Linked DNA regions of Homo sapiens: region 2 is linked to region 1. Evidence: fine-mapped expression QTL. Tissue or cell type: whole blood. Region 1 holds a variant in brackets; the other region holds the start of a gene. All regions are shown on one strand. Distances are between the middles of the regions.

Evidence for each region. PIP is the estimated chance that this variant, and not a neighbour inherited with it, causes the effect.
Region 2: P2RX7 starts here. The variant in region 1 is fine-mapped to the expression of P2RX7 in whole blood (INTERVAL, PIP above 0.99).

The regions. Positions count from the first base shown.
Region 1 is chr12:121,163,819-121,171,923 of GRCh38, forward strand. It overlaps P2RX7 (purinergic receptor P2X 7), which reads left to right. Exons shown (of 13, transcript NM_002562.6): 6 at 1,539-1,619; 7 at 2,240-2,369; 8 at 3,670-3,806. The region is part of intron 2 of LOC105370032 (a long non-coding RNA gene); the gene reads right to left. Among named protein-coding and RNA genes, the nearest start is that of P2RX7, 35 kb to the left of the region's middle. The variant C/T (reference allele first, on the strand shown) is at 3,978.
Region 2 is chr12:121,127,974-121,136,078 of GRCh38, forward strand. It overlaps P2RX7 (purinergic receptor P2X 7), which reads left to right and starts at 4,903. Exons shown (of 13, transcript NM_002562.6): 1 at 4,903-5,122. The coding sequence starts at 4,998. The region is part of intron 2 of LOC105370032 (a long non-coding RNA gene); the gene reads right to left. RefSeq lists an enhancer at 1,013-1,307.

The sequences.
Region 1 (8,105 bases):
CAGCGCAGTTCTAGACCGATGTGATTCAGGATCATTCCCTCAGCATCGTGGGGCAAAGAGAAAACTGCCCCAAGCTGGCCTGTAGAAGGCTCAGGCGAAGGTTTCCCAATGCCGGGATGGGGGGTGCGCTCAGCAGCATCACCCCTTATGATTCTCAATCGCTAATAGCTCCACTCAGGTTCATTTCTCGGTCAGGGGCATTTCTTTGTCACAGAAGGAATCACCCAGCTCTGGGAGATACAGCAGCCTCCACTCAGGTAGTCCTTGTTCAAGACAAGCGGCCCTTGACTGACTGCAGTTTCAGTTCCAGCTCTGCTATCAACTCACTCATTAAATAAACTGCATCTCCAGTGTGCCTGCCTCTGGGCTGGATTTTGACGTGACCTGGGCAAGCAACTCCCTGAACTTCAGTTTCTCATATATTATATGAATTAGCTAAGATGGTTCGTTTAATCATTCATTCAACACATCCATCACCACGTAGTAGGTGTTAGATATTTATTTCATACGTAACTACGCATAAGAGACTTTGCTAAGTTTTAGGTAAAATACAAGTCCCAGATACGGAGCAAGTCTCAACCACTGTACATACCTGAATGTGTAATTACATCACTGTGAGAGGTGCCACAGTAAATGCCACTGGGTCTTGTGTTAGTCCATTCTCACACAAAGAACTACCTAGCCAGGTGCGGTGGCTCACGCCTGTAATCCCAACACTTTGGCAGGCTGAGGCAGGCGGATCACTTGAGGTCAGGAGTTCGATACCAGCCTGGCAAACATGGTGAAACCCCATCTCTACTAAAAAATGCATAAATTAGCCAGGTGTGGTGGCACACGCCTGTAATCCCGGCTACTCGGGAGGCTGAGGCAGGAGAGTCGCTTGAACCCGGGAGGTGGAGGTTGCAGTGACCCAAGATCGCGCCACTGCACTCCAGCCTGGGTGACAGAGTGAGACTCCATCTCAGAAAAAAATAAAAATAAAAATAAAGAACTACCTGAGACCAAATACTTTACGAAAAAAAAGAGGTTTAATTGACTCACAGCTCCACAGGCTTAACAGGAAGCCTCAGGAGACTTACAATCATGGCAGAAGGCGAAGGGGAAGCAAACACATCTTACCATGATGGAGCAGGAGGCGGGTTTCGGGGGATGTGCCGCACACTTTTAAATGATCAGATCTCGTGAGAACTCACTCACTATCACAAGAACAGCAAGGAGGAAGTCCGCCCCCATGATTCAGTCACCTCCCACCAGGCCCCTCCTCTGGCACATGGGGATTACAATTCAAGATGAGATTTGGGTGGGGACACAGAGCCAAACCATATCAGATCTCAAGAAGGGAGAAATTCTTCTTGGAGGAGCTGGAGGGGCTTTGTGGAGAGTTTCAGAATGCTTTGCCCACTAGGTTTGCTGTATCCATTTCTCTTCATGTATCCCAAAGACCAAGCCAAGAAACCAGAAGCCTCTGGTCCCACTGGCCCATGGGCTCCCTCGGTTCCCCCCGTCACTAATGGCCATTTTGCATGTCTCTCTCCCAGGCCTGCTCTCTTGAACAGTGCCGAAAACTTCACTGTGCTCATCAAGAACAATATCGACTTCCCCGGCCACAACTACACCACGTAAGTGCCCAGGCTGCCTGGCTGTCTTAGTTATCTACTGCTGAGTAATAAATTATCCCAAACCTCAGAAGCCTGAAACAACAAACGCCTATTGTCTCCCACGGTTTCTGTGGGTCAGGAATCTGGGAATGACTTTGCTGCGTGGTTCTGGCTCAAGGTCTGTCAGGTTGTAGCCAAGCTGTCAACCAGGGCTGCAGTCATTTCTAGGCTTGACTGGGGCTGGAGAACACTTTTCCAAGCTCTCACACAGTTGCTCGTGGGAGAGCTCAGTTCCTCACCACGTGAACCTCGCCCTAGACCACTTGAGTATCCTTGGTATATGGTGGCTGGCTTCTCCCAGAGCAAGTGACCCAAGAGAGACAGAGCAAGCAACCAAGAGTATAACCAAGATGGAAGCCACAGTCTTTGGGGGGAGACCCCAACACTTCTGCCATATGCCATTGGTCACACAGATCAACCCTGGTCCAGTGTGAGAGGCCACTGCCCAGGGGTCCCAGGAGGCAGTGATCATTTGGGGCTTTCATGGAACCTCTCCACCACACTGGCTCACTCCTGGGAAAGAGACAGATCTGTTTTCAATCGAGATGTTTGTTTGTTTGTTTGCTTTTAATTATGCACAGGAGAAACATCCTGCCAGGTTTAAACATCACTTGTACCTTCCACAAGACTCAGAATCCACAGTGTCCCATTTTCCGACTAGGAGACATCTTCCGAGAAACAGGCGATAATTTTTCAGATGTGGCAATTCAGGTTGGTGGTGCTTTGTACACTGGGATGTGGGGCTGTGTGTCTAGGGATGGAGGATGTCAAACAGCCAAGAGGCCGGGCCACTGGGTCTTCATAATGTGGCTCACATTTACTGAGCATTTAGTAAATCCACCCGCTACGCTAAGGACTTTACCTACCATACCTCGTCAAATCCCAAAACAATCCTTATGAGTGAGAGCTACTTGGTGTATTCCTTTCCTGTGGCTGCTGTAGCAAGTTATCAAAGCTTAGTGGCTTCAAAGAACACATATTTGCTTATGTTGCCAGAGATCAGAAGTTGGAGATGATTTTCCCTGAGCCAGGGCAGTGCTCCCTCCGGGACTTTAAGGGAGAATCCAGTTCCTCAGCTTTTCCACCTTCTGGAGCTGCATTCCTTGCATTTCTTCAAAGCCAGCAGCATAACATCTTGCCTCAGTGGCCACTTTCACTCCCTATCCTGTGTCCAATCTCCCTTTGCCTCTGTCTTACAAAGAGAGAGAGCATTTACAAGAGGGGGCATTTAAGGACCAACTGGATAATCCAGGATAATCTCCCATCTCAAGATCCTTCATTTAGGCTGGGCACGGTGGCTCATGCCTGTAATCCCAGCACTTTGGGAGGCTGAGGTGGGTGGATCACCTGAGGTCAGGAGTTCAACACCAGCCTGGCCAACATGGTGAAAGCCCATCTTTACTAAAAATACAAAAAAAAAAAAAAAATAGCCGGGCATGATTGCAGGCTCCTGTAATCCCAGCTACTCGGGAGGCTGAGACAGGAGAATCGCTTGAACCTGGGAGGCAGAGGTTGCAGTGAGCCGAGATCGCACCACTGCACTCCAGCCTAGGTGACAAGAGCGAAACTCCATCTCAAAAAAAAAAAAAAAAATCCTTCATGTATTCGCATCTGCAAAGAGCTTTCCCTAGGGGAGTACTAGGAGGTAAAGCAGAAAAGATATTTGATAGAGTGCCCTGAATTCCAGTCTAATAAGTTTGGACTTGATCTTTAATGGGGGCGTGGGGGGCATTAAAGGTGTTTGGGTACAGGAGTGGTCTGTTGAAAGTTGTATTTTAGGACAATGAGTTTAACGGTGATGTGTCCCAGACGGGGGTAGGGAGAGTGAGGAGATGCGATTGTGGCTGCCACAATAACACTTGTGCGAGTTAGGTGGGGCTGTACATATGGTTCTTCAATCAGCATTTTTCCTCTAAAAACCTTAAGCAATCCTGGCTATGCAGGGAGATGTCTGGCGGTTGCGTAACTCACACCCAGCAGCCATAGAGACTGTCCCTTGTTGATCCTTCAGGGCGGAATAATGGGCATTGAGATCTACTGGGACTGCAACCTAGACCGTTGGTTCCATCACTGCCGTCCCAAATACAGTTTCCGTCGCCTTGACGACAAGACCACCAACGTGTCCTTGTACCCTGGCTACAACTTCAGGTAACTCCAAGGCCCAGGTCAAACTCACCCAGTGGCTGAATCGCATTCCCAGGAACTGGTGAGACTAATTTTGGTTTCCAAGGCAACAAGATGAATGAAAAAAGACTTTCTCTAAGAACTAGGTGATAACTGAATTTTTTCCATAATTTTTTAAAATTCTCAAAAGAGATG[C/T]ACACTCTTTATTTTTTACTTATTTTTTTTTTTTTGAAATGGAGTCTCACTCTGTCACCCAGGCTGAAGTGCAGTGGCGCCATCTCAGTCACTGCAAACTTCCGCCTCCCAGGTTCAAGCGACTCTCCTGCCTCAGCCTCCCAAGTAGCTGAGATTATAGGCGGATGCACACTGTTTATAAAACAAAACTATTGGGAAACAGAAAAGCATAGAGGGGGATCAAAATCACCCATAATTCCCCTACCCTGAAATAATCAATAACAACCCTCGGGGGAATTTTCCTCATCTGTACCAATTATTTCATACAGCTCCTATGAGATAATAGCATATATATATATATCTTGTGGTATTCTGCGGGGTTTTTCATACCACAGCCACTCAAAATTCTTTGTAACCATCACATTAATGATCATAACATTCCATTTTGTAGGTGAACAAATAACAACTGCTACAATTCAGGCAGTGTTTTCTTTTCTTTTCTTTTCTTTTTTTTTTTTAGATGGAGTCACACTCTGCTTGCCCAGGCTGGAGTGCAGTGGCATGATCTCAGCTCACTGCAACCTCTGCCTCCTAGGTCCAAGCGATCCTCCCACCTCCCAAGTTTCTGGGACCACAGGCATGTGCCACCACACCCAGCTAATTTTTGTATATTCAGTAGAGATGGGGTTTCACTGTGTTGGCCAGTCTGGTCTCGAACTCTTGACCTCAAGTGATCTTCCCGCCTTGGCTTCCCAAAGTGCTAGGATTACAGGCATGAGCCACTGTGCCTGGCCCAAGGAGGGTTTTCCATATACCAAGCACTCCCCGTCGCCATCCCTAAATCTCCCAACAACCCTGGAAGGAAGATATTGTTTCTGGAAGATGATTTGCCCAAGACCCACAGCTGATAGTACATGTTGCATAATTCTAACCCACGTCACTCTGACCCCACACTCACACTCCATCCCTTCCTTCCCATCTCATGATTTTCTCACCTACGCCTCCATGATTGAATATTTGAGTTGCTTCCAGTTTTTCTATTACAAGTAACCACAGTGTGCATCTTTGCACATAAACTTCTCTTTGAATTCCAGGTTACTTCCTTAGGATAAATTTCTAGACTTATTGAATCAAAGGTTGTGAACATTTTATCATATGCTTTTTATTTTTAAAAATATCTATAGTTATAATGTTTCATTTTTTTTTCTGAGACAGAGTCTCACTCTGTCACCCAGGTTGGAGTGGACCGGGTGCAATTATAGCTCACTGCAACCTCTGCCTCCCAGGCCCAAGTGATCCTCCCACCTCAGCCTCCTGAGTAGCTAGGACTACAGGTGCACGCCACCATGCCCAGCTAATTTTTAAAATTTTTTTGTAGAGTCGGGGTCTCACTATATTGCCCAGGCTGGTCTCAAACTCCTGGCTCAAGCAATCCGCCTGCCTTGGCCTCCTAAAGCGTTGGGATTGCAGGTGTAAGCCACTGCACCTGGCCTATAATTTTCATTTCTAGGATTTTTATTTGGTGCTTTTTCAAAGTCATCTATTATTGTTCCAGTGAGTCCCATTCTTACCTTAAGGATCCTACTCCTTCTGTCCATTCTACTGTATCATTCCTTTCATACCGACCTATTATCTGAAGTAACTTGGGTGGGAGTTCTCCTCGTGGGCTTTGAAATACTGTCTTCAGTAGAAAAGATCTTATGCAAAGTTCTGCATGTGCTGTGTGTTATGGAGTATTCCTTATATATTACTCAAAGCAGCTCCATAAACTGGCAGGCAGCCCCTTAAATGTGTTTCTGTTTCTGTTTTTTTGTTTTTTGGTCTGCATGATGTTTTAAAACTTGAGACAGGCCAGGTGCGGTGGCTTATGCCTGTAATCCCAGCACTTTGGGAGGCCAAGGTGGGAGGATCACTTGAACCCGGGGGTTTGAGGCTAGCCTGGGCAACATAGGGAGACCCCATCTCTACAAATAATAATTTTTAAAACATCAGCCAGGTGTGGGGGCATGCACCTCTGGTCCCAGCTACTCAGGAGGCTGAGGCAGGAGGATTGCTTGAACCTGGGAGGTGGAGGCTGCAGTGAACCGTGGTTGTGCCACTGCACTCCAGCCTGGGTGACAGAGTGAGACCCTTACATGGTGGCCACTGGCTGGAGCTGAGTATCAGTGGTCCTATTTAGAAAGGGGCTGGGCTTTCTGGTTCATCACTGTCCCCGCCACTCCTTAGTGCTTATACCTGGCCCACATCACTCATTTCTGTCATCTGCCTGGCCCCTGTGTAGACGTTTGAGTTTGAAACCCTTGACTCAAAGGCGGGCTGATGCTTTTTGCTTCCTCTGGATCAATGGAATTTCATCCAAGGCAATGGAACCAGCTCCTAATTGTGATAACTTTTTGATCATCCCCTGCCGCTGTGCTGAATAGGCTTATGGCCATTAAGAAGAGAGGACAGGATGAATGGTCCCCTGACTGACTGCCCTTCCAGGGTGTTTTTTTAGCTGTCAGCAGAAGCATGCGGGGCAGTGTACCAATCAGGTGTCAGCAAGTGTCCTTCCAGCGACTGAGTTGAGCACAAAAACATCTGCTCCTGGAGAGACCTGAGCCCTCTGAAGGCCTCAGCCAGTTATGATGTTAATGTTCTTTTAGAACAAAGTGGTAGAGCATTTGTTGTCTGGAATGAGCACCAGAAGAAATCTCTGGCCAAAAATAAATTGTTGAGGGCCGGGAGCAGTGGCTTATGCCTGTAATCCCAACACTTTGGGAGGCCGAAGCAGGAGGATCACCTGAGGTCAGGAGTTCGAGACCAGCCTGGCCAACATGGTGAAACCCTGTCTCTCCTAAAAATACAAAAATTAGCTGGACGTGGTGACAGGTGCCTGTAATACAGCTACTGGGAGGCTGAGGCAGGGAGAACTGCTTGAACCCGGAAGGTGGAGGTTGCAGTGAGCCGGGGTCATGCCACTTCACTCCAGCCTGGGCGACAGAGCAAAGCTCTGTCTTTAAAAACAACTTAAATAAATAAATAAATTGTTGAGGTCTGATGAGTAAGTGGACAAGTTATTTTCCAGCAGACACACAAAAGAGAAGGAAATTACAGGTTATACGAGGTATTTCAGAAAATATAACTTTCTAAAACATAGGAAGTTGAAGAAGTTGATCACATTACAGAATTCTGTTGTTTAGAAAATGACCTGTGGCGAAATGTCCTTATTCAGTGAATAGGTGATTCCGCTTATGCACGACCTGTGTGAAGTGGATCAGGCCACCCAGAATGCACGACGCGCTTCTCAGGCCCAGCAGGAGTATGTGTCTGTGTTAATTTCCTGTGGCTGTTATGACTAATTGCCACAAATGTGGTGGCTTAAAACAACAGAAATTAATCTTCTTATAGTTCTGGAAGCCAGAAGTTTGGAATCAAGATGTCAGCAGGGCCACACTCGCTCTGATGCTCTACGGGAGGGTCCTCTCTTGCCTCTTCCAGCGTCTGGTGGCTCCAGGCATTCCATAACTTTATAGCAGCGTCCCACAAATCTCTGCCTCCATCCTCACATGGCCTTCTCCACTGTGTCTCTATGTCTTCAATCTCTTTTTTTTTTTTTTTTTTTTTTGAGGCAGGGTTTCACTCCAGTCTCCTAGACTGAAGTGCAATGGCGTAATTTCGGGTCACTGCAACCTCTGCCTCCCGGGCTCAAGCGATTTGATCTCTCCTTTATCTTATAAAGATACTAGTCATTGGATTTGGGGCTTACCCTAAATCCAGGATAATCTCATCTTGAGATGTTTAACTTAATTATATCTGCAAACACTGTATTTCCAAATAAGGTCATATCACAGCCACTAGGGATTAGATACTTGAACATATCTTATTTGGGGGCTCAACCCATTCCAGTGTACGAAAAACACTCTTGTTCAAGGCCCGATGTTTCTCAGGGCATAGCCCACTGACTACCTGCATCAGAATAATCACTTGGTACCTGTACTGGAAATACAGACTCCTAGAAACATCTCAGAGCTTCTGCAACCACTCTTTGAGTGAGGGGCTCAGGAGTCTGCCTCTGAACACACTCACCCCAAGTGATTCTTTCTTTCTTTTTTTTTTTTTTTTTGAGATGGAGTCTTGCTCTGTCCCCCAGGCTGGAGTGCAGTGGCG
Region 2 (8,105 bases), 36 kb before region 1:
GTCAGTTCCCTTACTAGAGCTGCTTTAATTACACAGATTTACCATCGCTCTTAATATCTCCGTGGTCACCGGTTTATTTGTGAAGTGTTCACCCCATGGCCTCTGGGGACTCACTGTCTTTCGGCTTTCCTCTCCTCCCTACTCTGCCTCAGCTTAGTCTCCTTGGTGTTGGTGTCCTTCAGGGATCTGTCTTCGGTCCCCCTCCATGTCACTCTACCCTCTCCCTGGGCAGACCCCTGGCTCCACTCTTGCCCCTTCCGCCCATTTTCCATGGTGCAGCTAGAGTGCTCTGACTGAGCTGCAAATGAGACCATGCACACCCGTTTATAAACCCACCTATTGTTCTCAGGGTAAATTCCAGACAGACTCTTTAACACCAGAACATAAGGCTGGACGAGATTCAGGTCCAAGTAGTTTGTTTGGGAGGCGACCCAGGAAGAGGAGTGGGGAAGTGAGACAGGAAAGGGAAGGCAGTCAACACAGGAAGCATTAAAGAGTAGGTCAGGAGGCCGGACGCAGTGGCTCACACCTCTAATCCCAGCCCTTTGGGAGGCTGAGGCGGGCGGATCACCTGAGGTCGGCAGTTCTAGACCAGCTAGGGCAACATAGTGAAACTCCAACTCTACTAAAAATACAAAAATTAGCCGGGAGTGGTGGCACGCGCCTGTAGTCTTAGCTACTAGCGAGGCTGAGGCAGGAGAATCGCTTGAACCCGGGAGGCGGAGGTTGCAGTGAGCCGAGATCGTGCCACTGCACTCCAGCCTGGGCGACAGAGCAAGACACTGGAAATAAATAAAACTAATTAATTAATTAAAGAGCAGGTCACGGCTGTGGGCATCTGGGCTCAGACCCCCTCAGGCCCTCTGGAGACTGCCTAGACTTGTCTCAGAGTTGTCCCACCTGGGGGAGGAACGGGTATTTAACCAGCAGTCCCTCAGCCTTGGAGCCTCTATTCTCTGAGAGTCACATTCTCATTCTCTCTCTCCCTCTCTCTCTCTCTCTTCCCACCCCCCTTCTCTCTCTCTCTCTCTCCCGCCATCTTCCTTTCTTTCCTCCCTCCCTTCTCCCCCAACGGAGGTTGGCCCTTGACGCCCTGTGTGATTATGGCCCCGCCCACAGCCATAGCTGATTGGACCAGGGATAAAGAATTAGGCCAATCAGATTCATTCCCCTTGAGTTCTGGAACTGGGCAGGGGATCTGGGCTTGCATTTGAACTGTGGAACCTAACTTGGAGAGCATTGCTGAACCACGTGCCCTGGGAGAAACAGAGGAAGCCAGTGTTTAGAGAGACTCGCAATGGGCACACAGAGACAAACAGAGGCGGGCTTCAGACAAACTGAAAGAGCAACCTCAGCACAGGACAGTTTGGTTTCTGATTCTATTAATAGGTTCTCATGAGGTTGGGCACATTTCCTGCACTTGCAGTCTGTGAGATAAGTGTTTCCTCAAAAAAAAAAACTCCCTTTTCTGCTGAAGAATGTCACTTGATTTTCTGTAAATTGTAAACACACCCACACACTCACAAGACTAAGAAATCCACCGTTCAATCCCCAATTTTTTTTTTTTTGGTAACTTTATATTCCTTCCATCACGAGGTCAGAACATTTCATTGCTGCTGTGAGACTCTCCAGAGTTCTCATTAAAGAGTTCAAGACAATGGCTGTTCCGTTAGCCTCGATCTCTGAGTGATTACAGAGAGCTGAGCCATCTGGGAGACCCATGATGGACATATAGTGTGAGTGAGAATTAATTCATCACTGCTATAAGCCATGAGACACTGAGAGTGCTTTGTTATTGCAGCATAACCTGTCCTATCCTGATAGAATCATAAGAAGTGCTGAGAGACAATTTGCTGGAACTGATATTTACAGGGAGAAGAGAGCCAGAGAAAGATAAGACAAAGATTGGATGCAGTGGCTTATGCCTGTAACCCCAGCACTTTGGAAGGCTGAGTCAGGAGGATCACTTGAAGCCAGGAGTTCGAGACCAGCCTGGGCAGCATAGCAAGACCCTATCTCTACAAAATTAAAAAAAAAATTAACGAGGCTTGGTGGCATGTGCCTGTGGTCCCAGCTACTCAGGAGGCTGTGGTAGGGGGATCACTGGAGCCCAGAAGTTTGAAGCTGCAGTGAGCCATGATTGCGCCACTGCACTCCAGCCTGGACGACAGAGCAAGACCCAGTCTCTAAAATAAATTAATTAAATTAATTTTTTAAAAAGAAAGATAAGATAAAGAGTCATAGAAGTACAAATGAGAAACCAGGAGAACATGGGACCCAGGAAAGTCATGGAAACCAAGGGAAAATACTGGTCCAAGATGCAGAAAGTAGCCAGTGATGTTGAATGCATCCAAGAGATCAAGTAACATAAGGAATAAAATATATCCACCCAGTCTGGCAACTGAGAAGTCTTTGGTAACCTCTTTGAGAACAGAATCCATGGAGTGGAGGAGGTAGCAGTGATGAAATAGCGGACAAGGGCTGAAGGAGTGGAGAGGGGAGAGCATGAGGGACCAGTGCAAGAGTGCAGCAGAAAGACAACAAACAGGCCGGGTGTAGTGGCTCACGCCTGTAATCCCAACACTTTGGTAGGCTAAGGCGGGCAGATCGCTTGTGACCAGGAGTTCGAGACCAACCTAGCCAACATGGTGAAACCCCATCTCTACTAAAAACACAAAAATCAGCTGAGCGTGCGCATGGCTGTAATTGCAGATACTCATGAGGCTGAGGCACAAGAATCGCTTGAACCCAGGAGGCAGGGGTTGCAGTGACCCAAAGTCTTGCCACTGCACTACAGCCTGGGCAACAGGGGGAGACTCCATCTCAAAAAAACAAAAAAAAAAAAAAAAAAAAAAAAAGAAAGAAAGAAAAGAGAAAGAAAGAAAGACAAGAAAATAGATGTCTTTGAGTGGTAGCAAGAGCAACACTGAAGTGATTTGCCTATTCTGGACATTTCCTATAAATGGAGTCGTAAAAGATGTATCCTTTTGTGTCTGGCCTCTTTCACTTAAGCGTAGTGTTTTCAAGGTTCATCCATGTTGGAGCATGGGTCAGTGTTTCATTCCTTTTTATGGCTGAATAATATTCCCTTGTATGGGCTTTCGTGCTTTTGTGTATCCATCCATCAGCTGATGGACATTTGACTTGTCTGCCTGTTCACTGCCATATCTACTATTCCTGGTGCTCTTGGGAATGAGTGAATGAATAGCATAAACAGAGCTGTCCAGGGTCACAGAGCTGGTAAGATGTGAAGCCAGGATCGGAAGCCAGGCCATTAGTCCCCTAGAGCCTATGTTCTAAGCATCAGGCTTTACCTGTGAATCTCCTCTTTTTACAGATGAAGATGACCGTATCACTCAGATTCCCGGCAGGAAAGCAATGGCATACTCAAGTGGGGTAACTAATGATGGAACCATTTACAAAGGTGTGGACAGAGTTAAGAAAAAGCAATAGGAGATAGTGAGCTTCCTGGGGCTGGTAAGAGTGGGGAGCCCTTACCACTCCCAGGACTAAAGGAGGGAGTGGTGCCCAGAAGCCCTGCCTATATGCAACTGAGAAGGGCAGGGCCAGGGAGTCACGTCCATCCTCACTGCTCTCCAGTCTCCTGAACTGGAAGCCAGAAGGTGAGGGGAACCCTGATGCAGTTTGTATGTGTGAGAAAGTACAATTAGTTTAGACTGAAAAACTGAAAATCTACCCGGCCACTTAGCAGGCTGGAATAACAGAAAGGGATCAAGCCAGCTGTAAAGATAACAGGGAACAATAATTCTCTGTAGCTGTAAAGTGATAATACAACCCTGCATCTTTGAGTGACTGCTGAAACATTGTCCTTTAAAATCAGAGACCTTCAGAAACTTTGCTGTTTGAAATTACATGACTAAGACTGAAATATTCCAATTTTGCCTGGAAGATTTAAGTCATCTTGACACAGAGAAGCAGCCTCAATTTACAACTCAGGAGCAGAGCTTCAGATAAAGATTTTCTGGACACATTTGACATGTATCTTAGCTATGTTGCTTCCTAGGAAACAGGGCCCTGGGTCCTCTTTGCAATCCAGACTGAAGTTGACTGCTTTGTACAAACCTGTTTTGCTTTGAGTCCATCAAAACATGACTTCATTTAGATTTTATCTCAACTCCACTTTCCTCGGAATCCTATAATAAATTGCTGTTTTCCTTTGTTTGGTGATGTGCGTAGCTCTTCTGGTGGGTGGTGTCCCTCACTGAATAGGTCAACAAACCTAACTTTGTTGGACTGCCACTGTGTCCCTGGTGATCTTTGGCTGATTGGTCTAGGTCATAGATCGACCTGCCGGGGTGCAGAGGAGGGTGGAGAGTAACTCAGAGGGTCAAGCATGAAAGATCTGGCAGAAAAATAAAGCCCCTCCACCCCCACCACCCCTACCCCTGCAAATCTGATTTCCCCCACCAACTGCAGACCAGAGTATTATAAGGGGCGGTGGAAGAAGAGGGGGAGATCTTCATTTACCCAGAGCTCCTATACATCAGGGGCTGAATAAAGGGTTGTAGAAATGAATGAATCAATCTCTGAGTGGGGCTTCAGGCAATGGAAAGATCTCAGTCCTTTTCTGAGGCATAATGGAAGCTCCCAGTCTTGTGACATTTGCAAGGCTGCCCCTTTCTCCCAAGAGACATGAGACCAAAAAAGTGAAAGGAAAGGGGGGAAAAGGGAGAATTCTAAAAATGCCCATCCTCTGAACACCATCTTTGTGTAGGCATCTGGGGGAGGCCAGCTGGGGTGAGGTCATCTGCCAGCCAGGCCCGTAGGACTTGGCGCTTCTTGTTTATCACAGCCACATGTGGGGCCACTGCCAGGGCCCGCCCCAACTCTGCAGTCATTGGAGGAGCTTGAAGTTAAAGACTCCTGCTAAAAACCAGTACGTTTCATTTTGCAGTTACTGGGAGGGGGCTTGCTGTGGCCCTGTCAGGAAGAGTAGAGCTCTGGTCCAGCTCCGCGCAGGGAGGGAGGCTGTCACCATGCCGGCCTGCTGCAGCTGCAGTGATGTTTTCCAGTATGAGACGAACAAAGTCACTCGGATCCAGAGCATGAATTATGGCACCATTAAGTGGTTCTTCCACGTGATCATCTTTTCCTACGTTTGGTAAGTGGGATCTGGGGAGGACCCAGATCTCTGCAGTGGCCGACAGCACAGAAAGCCCCAGCGGGCAGCTTCAGGTGCACATTCTGAATCTCACATGGTTTTCGAATCTGAGACGTGCTCTCACAGCCAGCTGGGCGGGAGGGAGGAAGCAGCAGCAGGCAAGAGGAAACGGTGCCAGGCTGCAGCAGAGAGAAGCCACAGGACAAGCGGGATTCCTTTCTGCTCTACTTCAGGCCCGCCAGGGCGCGCAGGGCAGGGCGTGCCTGGGGAAGGTAGGAAAGCGCAGGGCAACACCCTGGATCCCCAGGGAGGAGGCGAGGATCTCAGGGCACGCCTGGTGATCATGCTGGCATCTGAGTCACCATGCTTGGGAGGAATAGGACCAGGCTTGAAAATGTGTTATAACTTTAGGTCCTCACCAACGTCAGGAAGGCCCTGCTTTTTGGTTTTTGTTTCTTCTAAAAGAAACTTACTGAGATATAATTTATACACCATACAATTGACCCATTTAAAGGGTACCATTTAATGATTTTCAGATTATTCCCAGAGTTGTGCAACCATCCCCACAATCAATTTTAGAATATTTTAATCGACTCAAAAGGAATCCCACACTCCTTCACCATCATTTCCAACACTGTTCCTCCTCCTTCCCACCCATCAATTTCCTTTCTGCCTCTATGGATTTGCCGATTCTGGACATTTCATATAAATGGAATCACATAATATGTGGTCCTTTGTGGCACTTAGCGTGTTTTCAATGCTCATCCATGTTGTAGCATGTGTTGATACTTCATTCAATTTTTTTTTTTAAAGAGACGGGGTCTCACTATTTTGTCCAGGCTGGTCTCAAACTCCTGGACTCAAGTGATCTGCCTGCCTCGGCCTCCCAAAGTGTCAGGATTACAGGCGTGAGCCATTGCACCCGGCTGATACTTCATTCCTTTTTACGGCTGAGTAGTACTCCATTGCATGGATAGACCACTTTTTTCTATCCATTCATCCATTGATGGACATTGGGGTTGTTTCTCTTTTTTGGCTATCATGAATAATGCCACATGAACATTTGTGTACAAGGTTTTATGTGGATATATATTCTCCTTTCTCTCGAATATGTACCTAAGAGTAAAAATTGCTAGGTCATATGTTAACTATGTTTCACCTTTGGGGGGAATGTGGAGCTGAATTTCACAGCAGCTGCAGTTTTTTACATTCCTATCAGCAGAGTATGAGGGATCCAATTTCTCCACATCCTCACCAACGCTTGTTATCGTCTGTCTTTTTGGGTTTTGTTGTTGTCATTTTGTTTTTGTCTTTGAGATGAAGTCTTGCTCTGTTGCCCAGGCTGGAGTGCAGTGGCGCAATCTTGGCTCACTGCAACCTCCACCTCCCCGGTTCAAGCGATTCTCCTGCCTCAGCCTCATGAGTAGCTGGGATTACAGGTGTGCGTCACCACTCCTCACTAATTTTTGTATTTTTAGTAGAGATGAGGTTTCGCCATGTAGGCCAGGCTGGTCTCAAACTCCTGACCTCAAGTGATCCGCCCACCTTGGCCTCCCAAAGTGCTGGGATTACAGGCATGAGCCGCCACGCCCGGCTGATTGTCTGTCTTTTTTATTATAGCCATGCTAGTGGGTGTGAAGTGGTAGTTCATTGTGGTTGTGATTTGAATTTCCCTGATGGTGAGTGCCTCTTATTCTCTGTGCTGATTGATAATGATGATGAAGGCAATTTGTATCTATAGAGTGGCAGTGTAGTTTACTAAGAGTTAGGGTAACTTATTTCATAGTACTGGCTATGTCTTCTGGGCCAAGTCATTAACTTCTCTGAGCCTCAGTTTCTGCATCTGTTCATAGGGTTGTGGCAATTAACCAAAAAAAAAAGGCATGAACAGCCCTTATCATGATGACTGACATAGGATAAGAGCTCCATAACTAGTATCTATTTTTAAAAATAATCTTTTTAAGTCTGGGAGTGGTGGCTCACACCTGTAATCCCAACACTTTGGGAGGCCAAGGCGGGTGGATCACGAAGTCAGGAGTTTGAGACCAGCCTGGCCAATATGGTGAAACCCCATCTCTACTAAAAATACAAAAATTAGTGGGGAGTGGTGGTGCACACCTGTAATCCCAGCTACTAGGGAGGCTGAGGCAGGAGAATCGCTTGAACCCGGAGGCGGAGGTTGCAGTGAGCCAAGATCAAGCCACTGCACTCCAGCCTGGGTGACAGAGCAAGACTCCATCTCAAAATAATAATAATAGTAATAATTTTTTTGATTATATAATAGTATATATGTATATAAAATACATGTATGTATTTTTATCTATATCCTCTGCTCTGACCCTCAAAGTAACCACGTCCAAGTTCAGGATTTGAAATCTGGAAACGTGGATTCAAAAATCCTTCACCTCTTTGAGCCTTGGTTTCATCATCTGTAAAATGGGGAGAATTGTTGATAGGAATATTAAATGAACTAATAAATGCAAAGCTGTTTGAGAAATATATGGCATATAGTAATCCCTGATTAAGTGTTAGTTCTTATTATTAATAATGCTATTATTAGGATTATTATTATTCGATTCATATGTTTACTGTTCAACAAATATTGAATGATAAACATATATGCTGGGTCCGGCATGGTGGCCCATGCCTGTAATTCCAGCACTTTGGGAGGCCAAGGCGGGCAGGTCACTTGAGGTCAAGAGTTTGAGACCAGCCTGGCCAACGTGGTGGAAACTCCATCTGTGCTAAAAATACAAAAATTAGCCGGGCATGGTGGTGGGTGCCTGTAATCCCAGCTACTCGGGAGGCTGAGACAGGAGAATCACTTGAACCCAGGAGGTGGAGGTTGCAGTGAGCCAAGATTGCACCACTGCACTCCAGCCTGAGCCACAGAGCAAGACTCTGTCTCAAAAAAAAAAAAAAAAAAAAATATATATATATATATATAGTATTTTTAGTAGAGATGGGGTTTTGCCATCTCTTA